Homo sapiens: one gene and its partners. The protein of the gene in region 3 purifies or fractionates together with the protein of the main gene of each other region. This does not show direct contact. Each region holds a gene or a part of one and is shown on either strand. Other genes may lie near its edges.

What was found.
Region 1: the proteins of DCC (region 3) and EIF5A2 purify together in Homo sapiens (affinity purification with western blotting; one study listed by BioGRID and IntAct). This does not show direct contact.
Region 2: the proteins of DCC (region 3) and EIF4E purify together in Homo sapiens (affinity purification with western blotting; 2 studies listed by BioGRID, with this or other methods). This does not show direct contact.

What each region holds. Positions count from the first base shown.
Region 1 is NC_000003.12:170,895,043-170,898,702, reverse strand, and holds part of EIF5A2 (eukaryotic translation initiation factor 5A-2), read left to right. Parts: intron 1-3,660. UniProt on the Homo sapiens protein: Translation factor that promotes translation elongation and termination, particularly upon ribosome stalling at specific amino acid sequence contexts.
Region 2 is NC_000004.12:98,881,455-98,884,293, reverse strand, and holds part of EIF4E (eukaryotic translation initiation factor 4E), read left to right. Parts: intron 1-2,839. UniProt on the Homo sapiens protein: Acts in the cytoplasm to initiate and regulate protein synthesis and is required in the nucleus for export of a subset of mRNAs from the nucleus to the cytoplasm which promotes processes such as RNA capping, processing and splicing.
Region 3 is NC_000018.10:53,207,626-53,211,285, forward strand, and holds part of DCC (netrin receptor DCC), read left to right. Parts: intron 1-53; coding exon 54-192; intron 193-3,660. UniProt on the Homo sapiens protein: Receptor for netrin required for axon guidance. Mediates axon attraction of neuronal growth cones in the developing nervous system upon ligand binding. Its association with UNC5 proteins may trigger signaling for axon repulsion.

The DNA of each region.
Region 1 (3,660 bases), on a different chromosome or scaffold from region 3:
TCAATTTAAAAGATTGTATTAGTCCATTTTCACACTGCTATAAAGAACTACCTGAAACTGAGTAACTTATAAGAAAAGAGATTTAACTGATTCACAGTTCCACATGGCTGGGGAGGCCTCAGGAAACTTACAATCATGGAGGAAGGTGAAAGGGAAGCAAGGCATGTTTTATATGGCAGCAGGAGAGACAGCAAGCAGGGGGGATCTGTCAAACACTTTTAAGCCATCAGATCTCATGAGAACTCACTTACTATCATGAGAACAGCATGAGGGAAACTGCCCCCATGATCCAATCACCTCCTACCAGGTTCCTCCCTTGACATGTGGGGATTATAATTCAAGATGAGATTTGGGTGAGGACACAGAGCCAAATCATATTATTCTGTCCCTGGCCCCTTCCAAATCTCATGTTCTCACTTTCAAAACACAATCATGCCTTCTCAACAGTCCCTGAAAGTCTTAACTCATTCCAGCATTAACCCAAAAGTCCAAGTCCAAAGTCTCATCTGAAACAAGGGAAGTCCCTTCCGCCTATGAGCCTGTAAAATGAAAAGCAAGTCAGTTACTTCCTAGAAACAATGAGGATACAGGCATTGGGTAAATACTGTTATTTCAAATGGGAGAAATTGGCCAAAACAAAGGAGCTACAGGTCCCATACAAGTCCGAAACCTAGCAGGGTAGCCATTCAGTCTTAAAGCTCCAAAATAATCTCCTTTGCCTCCATGTCTTACATCCAGGGCACACTGATCCAAAAGGTAGGCTCCCAAGGTCTTGGGCAGCTCCACCCCTGTGGCTCTACAGGGTACAGCCTCTGCAGCTGCTTTCACTGGTTGGTATTGAGTGCCTGTGGCTTTTCCAGGCACATGGTACACCATTCTGGAATCTAGAAGATGGTGACCCCCCTTCTCACAGCTCCACTAGGCAGTGTCCCAGTGGGGACTCTGTGTGGGGGATCTAACCTGACATTTCCCTTCCACACTGCCCTAGCAGAGGTTCTCCATGAGGGCTCTGCCCCTGCAGCAGACTTCTGCTTGGACCTCCAGGCATTTCATACATCCTCTGAAATCTAGGCGGAGGCTCCCAAACCTCAACTCTTGCCTTCTGTGTACCTGCAGGCCCAACACCACATGGAAGCCACCAAGGATTAGGGCTTACACTCTCTGAAGCAACAGCCCAAGCTGTACCTTGACCCCTTTTAGCCACAGCTGGAGCTGGAGTGGCTGGGACACAGGGCACCAAGTCCCGAGGCTATACAGAGCAGCAGGGCTCTGGGCCTGGCCCATGAAACCATTTTTCCCTCCTAGGCCTCTGGACCTGTGTTGGGAGGGGATGCCATGAAGATATCTGGAATGCCCTGGAGACATTTTCCCCATTGTCTTGGCTATTAATATTCAGCTCCTTGTAACTTATGCAAATTTCTGCAGCTGGCTTGAATTTCTTCCCAGAAAATGGGTTTTTCTTTTCTACTACATGGTCAGGATGTACATTTTTCAAACTTCTATGCTATGCTTCCCTTTTAAACATGAGCTCCAGTTTCAGATCATCTCTTCATGAATGCATATGACTGTACACTTTCAAAAAAAGCCAGGTTACCTCTTGCACACTTTGCTGCTTAGAAATTTCTTATGCCAGGTAACCTAAATCATCTCTCTCAAGTTCATAGTTCCACAGATCTCTAGGGCAGGGCAAAATGCTGCCAGTCTCTTTGCTAAAGCACGGCAGGAGTGACCTTTGTTCCAGTTCCCAGTGAGTTCCTCATCTCCATCTGAAACCACCTCAGCCTGGACTTCACTGTCCATATCATTGTCAGCATTTTGTTCAAATCCATTCAACAAGTCTCTAGGAAGTTTCAAATTCTCCCTCATCTTTCTTTCTTCTGAGCCCTCTAAACTGTTGCAGTCTCTGCCTGTTACCCAGTTCCAAAGTTGTTTCCTTATTTTCAGGCATCTTTATAGCAGTGGCCCAAACTCCTGGTACCAATTTTCTGTATTAGTCCTTTTTCACACTGCTATAAAGAACTACCTGAGACTGGGTAATTTATAAAGAAAAGAAATTTAATTGAGTCACAGTTCCACATGGCTATGGAGGCCTCAGGAACCACGGCAGAAGGCGAAGGGGAAGCAAGGCACATCTTACATGGCAGCAGGAGATACAGCAAGTGAGGGGGGAACTGCTAAACACTTTGAAGAGAACTCACTCACTATCATGACAACAGCATTGCGGAGACTGACCCCATGATCCAATTGCGTCCCACCAGCTCCCTCCCTCGACATGTGGGGATTACAATTCAAGATGAGATTTGGGTGGGGACACAGAGCCAAACCATATCAAAGATTAAATAATTCATTCTCATTATTTTTGTTTTTCGTAGCTTAGTTTTATTTTTGAAAACTAATTGTATTTAATATAGCAATTTATCTTAATGTTTAATGTTTGTAAATGCATTGTTTTACTAGATGTTTTATATATTTGTACATCTGAAATGCTTTATATATTTCATTCCACAGTTTATGATTCTTAACTCTTAAAAAATAAAATAGCTCCATTACATACATCATTTTCAAAATATCAGTATTATTATTTGGCTTCTGTGTTTCAGTCACTAGTGGCACAGTACGAACATTTAACTCTTGAAATAGACAAGCTGTGCTTTAGGGAATTACTAAAAGAACAGAAATCAGAAAGATTTGTCTTGGAATGTTGTGGTTGTTTAAAAATTACACTTCAAGCTAGGTGCATTGGTGCACACCTATAGTCCCAGCTCCTTGGAAGGCTAAAGCAGAGGCTCACTTGACCCCAGGAGTTCGAGGCCAGCCTAGGCAATATAATGAGACGCCCATCTTTAAAAATATATATATTTTTTAAAAAGTTACACTTCTACCTCAACCTCCTTGCTCCCACTTCTCTACCAGCCACCTCACAAATATTTGAGGGTCTAAGAGGTTAGTTAAAAGTCTTTGTTGTAGCTCTGTAGGATTTCTTATTTTTGAGATTTCTAGACATATAAAAACTCAAATTTCCTGTGATAGATGGAGTTTCTGTGGAGAGCCATAGGCAGTTTTGGTAGATGGTGTATGTGGAGGAGAGCAATCCCAACGATATGCCTGGGTTATATCATAGTGGTTACAGGGGTTCAAGGACCATTGTCTTTGACTCCTTTTGTAGATATTAGTAGCTGGTATTCTGGATGGTAGCCTTTTATAAAACATGTTAGGATTCGAGGCATACTAATAGTGTACATGCTTTTATTAATAGAATAAATGAGTGGAGGTTGGTTGTTTACTCATTCCTGTAGTAAAAGAAGTTCAGTGGTATCAAAACCGTGCTTTTTTGCAGGTTGGGTTGACAACTGGGTTTTTTTTTTTCACTAATGTTATCCATACACTAGTGGATTTTGTTGTTGTTGTTGTTGTTGACTGAAGACCAAAAGTTTTCCACTTAATTTTGTTCATACTCAAATTAGAAAATGCATTGTTTGTAATAGCAAAAATAACTTTTATGCCCAGTAATGTGAAATTGGTTAAATCAGTAATAGTATGTCCATGCAGATATGTGGTAGTTAACTAAGGTAGGTTTACATTTTCTGCTTAGAAAGTATTTATAAGACATATTATTAAGTCAAAACAGCTCACTGTAAAGTACTTATAATATCTCTTTTT
Region 2 (2,839 bases), on a different chromosome or scaffold from region 3:
ACTTTGAAAGTGCTGTTTGGAAAAAAGTACTACTTTGAAAAGAGCTAATGTATGCTCATAATAATAATTCAGTGATTATTGGCAAATAGTATATGTGCATTTAAAGCATGTGTGTTTACTACGTATAATTTTCATTAAAATTTATATAACATATCTTGGTTTTTGTTCCATGTTTAAAACCCACATATGTAGGGTTTTATTAAACCTTTTTTTGTAAATTTTATTCTTTGCAAAAGTGGCTTTTTTTTTTTTTTTGAGACAGGGTCTCACTGTGTTATTCAGGCAAGAGTGCAGTGGTGCAGTCATGGCTCACTTCAGCCTCAACCTCCTGGGCTCAGGTGATACTCCTACCTCAGCCACCCAATTAGCTGCAACTACAGGTGTGTATGACCACACCTGGCTATTTTCTTGTATTTTTTGTAGAGAAGAGGTTTTGCCATGTTGCCCAGACTGGTCATGAACTCCTGGACTTGATCAAGCCACCTCAGCCTTTCAAAGTGCTGAGATTACAGGCGTGAGCCACCATGCTAAACCAGCTGACATTTTTTTTCTAAGATTTCTTTTTACCTCAATTATATTAGTAATATTTGACACCAGGCGCAGTGGCTCACACCTGTAATCGCAGCACTTTGGGAGGCTGAGGCAGGTGGATCACAAGGTCAGGAGATTGAGACCATCCTGGCCAACACGGTGAAACCCCGTCTCTACTAAAAATACAAAAAAAACAATTAGCTGGGCGTGGTGGCGGGCGCCTGTAGTTCCAGCTACTTGGGAGACTGAGGCAGGAGAATGGCATGAACCCGGGAGGCGGAGCTTGCAGTGAGCCAAGATTGGGCCACTGCGCTCCAGCCTGGGAGACAGAGCGAGACTGTCTCACAAAAAAAAAAAAAAAAAAAAAAATTTGACTTACAATTTTATGTTAAAATTAAGTGCTGGTCAGTCAGTGGTCAAAATGTTTGGTTTGCCCCTTTGTGATTTTTCAAATATTATTAATTTTTCTTTTTAAAATTAATTAATTTTTTGAGACAGAGTCACACTCTGTTGCCCAGGCTGGGGTGCAGTAGCGCGATGTCAGCTCACTGCAACCTCCACCTCTTGGGTTCAAGTGATTCTCTTGCCTCAGCCTCCTGAATAGCTGGGACCACAGGCCTGAACCACTGCAGTAGTTTTTGTAGAGACAGGGTTTCGCCATGTTGGCCAGGCTGGTGTCAAACTCCTAGCCTCAAGTCATCCACCTGCCTCAGCCTCCCAAAGTGCTGGGATTTCAGGCGTGATCCATTGCTCTCAGCCATGTAAATTTTTATGTGAACATAATTTATTTCTGGATCAAAAGGTATAGGGATTTTCTACATTTCATGCTATATGGGGTTCCATAAGAGAAAAGAGTTGATTTGTCATCATATTTTAATGTTTCTTCCAGCATCAAAACCTAATTTTGGAGGATTTACTTTTTTTTTTTTTAAATGAGTTAAATTAAGAATTTTTTTCCTACGGAAGTTTTGTATTTTTGTCAATATTAAATGTTTTTGAGTGTATATTAAGACTTCAGATTTTCAAACGAAGATTTTCTTTTTTAACCTTCCAATTTGCATGACTCAATGGTCTTGCTTTTTGACATTTTTAATAATTAAGTATAATTGAAAGGAATGCATTGCATTATAATGCAAATTTGATAATTAACACTTTAGTTACCATAAAATTACTTTTTAATACCTTATTTTAGGGGGAAGGTAGTAAATCTTCTGGAAGGTATAAAAAAAACCTATCCTAGTATCATGTTGGAGGATTTAACTCCATTAATATCTTTATTCCTTTATTTTTATTTGATTTTTGCTTATTTTTGAATTTTTACTATTTTTTTCCTAAAGATTCTTTTTTCTTTTTTTTTTTTTTTTTTGAGACGGAGTCTTGCTCTGTCACCCAGGCTGGAGTGCAGTGGCACAGTCTCACTCAAGCTCACTGCAAGCTCTGCCTCCCAGGTTCACGCCATTCTCCTGCCTCAGCCTCCCGAGTTGCTGGGACTACAGGCACCTGCCACCACACCCGGCTAATTTTTTGTATTTTTAGTAGAGGCGGGGTTTCACCATGTTAGCCAGGATGGTCTCGATCTCCTGACCTCGTGATCCGCCCGCCTCGGCCTCCCAAAGTGCTGGGATTACAGGCGTGAGCCACCGCGCCCAGCCAAAGATTCAAATTTTTAAGATGACCTATGAAGCTCTCTGTGATCTTCCTCTGAAACCTTGTCAGCTTTATCTCATGTTCACTTTACTTACAAGCCATAGCCACACAGCCTAATTTTTATTTCTCAGCTTTCAAATGTGCTCATTCTCTTAACATTATCCTTTTGACCTCGTGATATTTAAAGGGGAAGACTTCTCTAATGTTGTAGATGAGATTAGAATCTCCTTGTTATACAGTATCACAGCCCTTATGTTTACTCTTTGGCACTCATGACAAGTGCCATTTTATTCTTGCAATAGAGTCATGTCTTACTTGAAAATTAGGTTGTAAAGTTAGTATGTAAAGCAGAAATTACATTCTCCCTCGAAGTGTTTCATTCACTCCCTCGAAGTGTTTAATCTCCCTCAAAGTGTTTAGTTTTTGTTTGTGCAGTCTTATAACAGGTATGGTTAATATAATTTGTGTAGTAATATACAATATTTGCTAGGGTTCAGACGTGAAATGTAACATTTTAGATCAAAGAATGAAACATGTTTGTTTTACAGATTTCTGTTTTTAAGTATGCATGTGATACAGGTCTGTCATGTATTTGTGATTATTTGATTATGTTTTCTCTACTAGACTATAAATGCAGTCAGCTCAGGGACTGTCCTTACTT
Region 3 (3,660 bases):
TTTCTACTTTAATGTGCTTCCTTGATAACAGTTTTGGTGTTTTATGTCTCCAGAATATAGAGGTTGATGGACTATCTTATAAACTGGAAGGCCTGAAAAAATTCACCGAATATAGTCTTCGATTCTTAGCTTATAATCGCTATGGTCCGGGCGTCTCTACTGATGATATAACAGTGGTTACACTTTCTGACGGTAAGTTAAAAACAGTGAAACTCCTTTTACATATTTGACATAATATTGACAATAATGACATGATATTGCACATATATCATATATTCCATTTTCAAGGCTTCCTGACTAAAATTTTATGGACTATTACAGTTAAATGTAAACTTTCTATCAAGATACATACTCCCAGCTGGATGTGGTAGTTCACACAGGTAATCCTAGCACTTTAAGAGACTGAGGCAGGAGGATGAGTTAAGCCTAGGAGTTCAAGACCCACCTGAACAACATAGTGAGACCCTATCTCTGTAAATGTTTTTTTTTTTTTTTTTTAATTAACTGGATATGGTGGCATGCACCTGCGATCCCAGCTACTTGGGAGGCTCATTCTGGAGGATCACTTGAGCCTGGGAGTTCAAGACTGCAGTAAGCTGTGATCGTTCTACTGCACTCCAGCCTGGGCAACAGAGTAAGACCCTTTCTCCAAATTAAATAAATATATATGTATATATGTATATACATATGTATATACTCTTGAGTCAGTATATACTAATAGGTAATCCTCAAAATGTGACTATTGACTAAGAGCTAAAACTTTGTGTATTTTTTATTTCTTTACATTTTCTAATACACATTTGTGCATGTGTGGATTAATTTTGATTGGCATGTTTTATTCCCCCATCTAAAAGTGTGCAGATGATTAAAGGTGTAAATGATAGACAATCCCCCTATATTTACCTCTTAATTAGAAAATATATCAAAAGGAATTAGGCCAAATAAGCTGATATTAAAATTTAAAGTATTAAAATTGAGCATGAAAAATGTGTATGTTGCCTACTAAATGGAAGAATAGACACAAACACACACATTTGAGACAAGAAGTGCAGTGACTCAATTGTGCTTCACTACACCCTTTATTCCTGGGCTCAAGGGCTTTTCTTTTCTTTTCCTTTTTTGGAAACGGAGTCTCGCTCTGTCACCCAGGTTGGCATGCAGTGGTGCAGTCTCAGCTCACTGCAACCTCCACCTCTCGGGTTTAAGTGATTCTCCTGCCCCCAGCCTCCTGAGTACCTGGGATTACAGGTGCATGCCACCACCCCTGGCTAGTTTTTGTATTTTTAGTAGAGACAGAGTTTCACCATGCTGAGCAGGCTGGTCTGGAACTCCTGACCTCAAGTGATCCACCCGCCTTGGCCTCACATAGTGCTGGGATTACAAGCGTGAGCCACTGCACCCAGCCTCAAGGGATTTTCCTGCCGAAGCCTCCCGAGTAGCTGGAACTACAGGCATAGGCCACAGCACCCAGCTAATATTTTTATTTTTTGCAGAGGCAGGGTCTCACTTTGTTGCCCAGGCTAGACCTGTTTTTGAATGCCATAAAAGAGAGGAACAAATCTTAATAAAGAGAATAAATTTGACAAAATAATGGCCAGGGGAAACTAGAAACCTAACTGCTAGATGATCATGAAAGGTTGGGAAATTTTATAAAAAGTGAAAATAAAATACATCAAAGTATATGATGTGGGGCCAACGAAAACTCAGGCAGGTGCAGAAATGTAGCGATAGGCCCTTGTGAATATTAAAAAAGGCCACAAGCTAGCTCTTTTCAGCAACAATTTCCATTTGGTGTGTTTAATTCTATAAATTATTTATCTTTTTAATTAAAAAATGACTTTAGCTTGTGATTTCTTGACAGATCTATCATTGTTTATTCTGGGAAAGTACCTGGGTGTACATTTCACACAATATCAGTGAAATGAGGAAGGGCATGCATATTATTAAGGACAGTACAAAGAGAACACAGGAATAATGCTCATTTGCAAATTCAACTTTAAAATGTATTTTATACGTAATACCACTTTGGTATCATTTTTAATGTAATTCTTAGGCCCATCCATCCAATTCTGTTATTGAAGACAGAACAGAATATTTATTGGTAGAATAAATTACTTCACAACTTATAATTATAAAAATAAAAGAAAAACAAATGAAAGTGAATGTTTTACATAATTTATGTAGATTTCATTCACTCTGAACTGTAATACTGTGGCCTGATTCTCCACTTTGGTTTTAAATGTCATAAGTGAGAAAGATAGATTATTATTCATTAGTCCAAGAATTATCTTCTGGAAATGTTACAATGTTTAGGACTTAGACAGTGTCTGTCAGTATAAAAAAAGTATTTCGTGACCCTAACCCCAATAAACATCACTGTGCAAAGGACACCAAATTCTCTCTCTCAAATGCACTGAAAGGAGATAGCAAGGACTTTATAAGCTTCTTAGAGTGGACACCGTGACCTCGTTTGCATTCATTTTTACAATCAACCCATCTCTTTTAATGTCCAACACAAATGTGTGGCTCTTGGCTTTCATTTCCTTATTATCCAGTTCCTTTCTGTCTACTTCAATCTCATGTCTCCTCCTCTGTCCTGAAGCTGTTCATGCTGAGGTCATATATCACATTGAGTTGTATTTAATCACATTTAATAGTCACCTGCTTCCCAGTCTTCAGTCATGGAGCACTCTTCTTCGTTAACTTTATGTATGTTGTAACAGGTGGATGTTGTGAAAATTAAATGGGCTGATCTGTGTAAACATCTAACAAAGTGTATGACATTTAAGTGTTTAATAAACATTATCTCTACCAAAGTGCACTTCACTTTTTCTCATTATATTAATATTAAATACCCCTAAATATGAAGGATGCTGTTATATTCACCTCTGTTTTCTTCCTGAGTAAATATTTATCGAATTAATTAGACAGCTCAGTCAAAACTGTGCAAATTTCTGTATGCAAAGGCTTATCTTTAGGATTTCCCATTTGTGGAACTAATTTGATATATTAATTTAATATATGACTGTGTCTAAATGCATCTGTATTATAGTGAACATAATAATTCTTTTCATATCAGGAGTCTTACCATAAAAAATATATTGAGACATAGAAAAATTTTTAAAAAAGCAAAAGTTAAGTGTAAATACATTTCTTCCAATTTCATTACTTTATGTTTTTTTTTCCCTGTTCTACTGGGATGCTTGTAAAGATCTTTGTCCAGATGAGCTGTCATCTCTAATTTAGCTCGGCTTTATTTTCTGAGTAGAAACCTTATTTTTTATTCAAATTCCTCCACCTAGAAAACCACTGGTTTACAATGAGCCATTTTTTTTTCACACCACTGAGATTATACAGCATATGATCATCTAAATAATTTTGCCAATTTGTTCCAAAATACTGTCTCTTGCACTAGTTGGTAAGTCACTAAGAGCTTTTATGAACGAATGAACCATTGAAAGTTTCCATGCCAGCTTGTCCTGTGTCCAAATGCAGAAGGACCTGATTTCATAGGCAACATAAGAATGTGCTTATTATTTTTATGAATGTTATTAATATTTCTTGAATACTTACTAATGGAAGGCCCTGATCCAAGTACTTTGCCTTTACCTTTCATCCTCACGATACTACTAAAATTTTCCCTACTTTACAGATGACAAA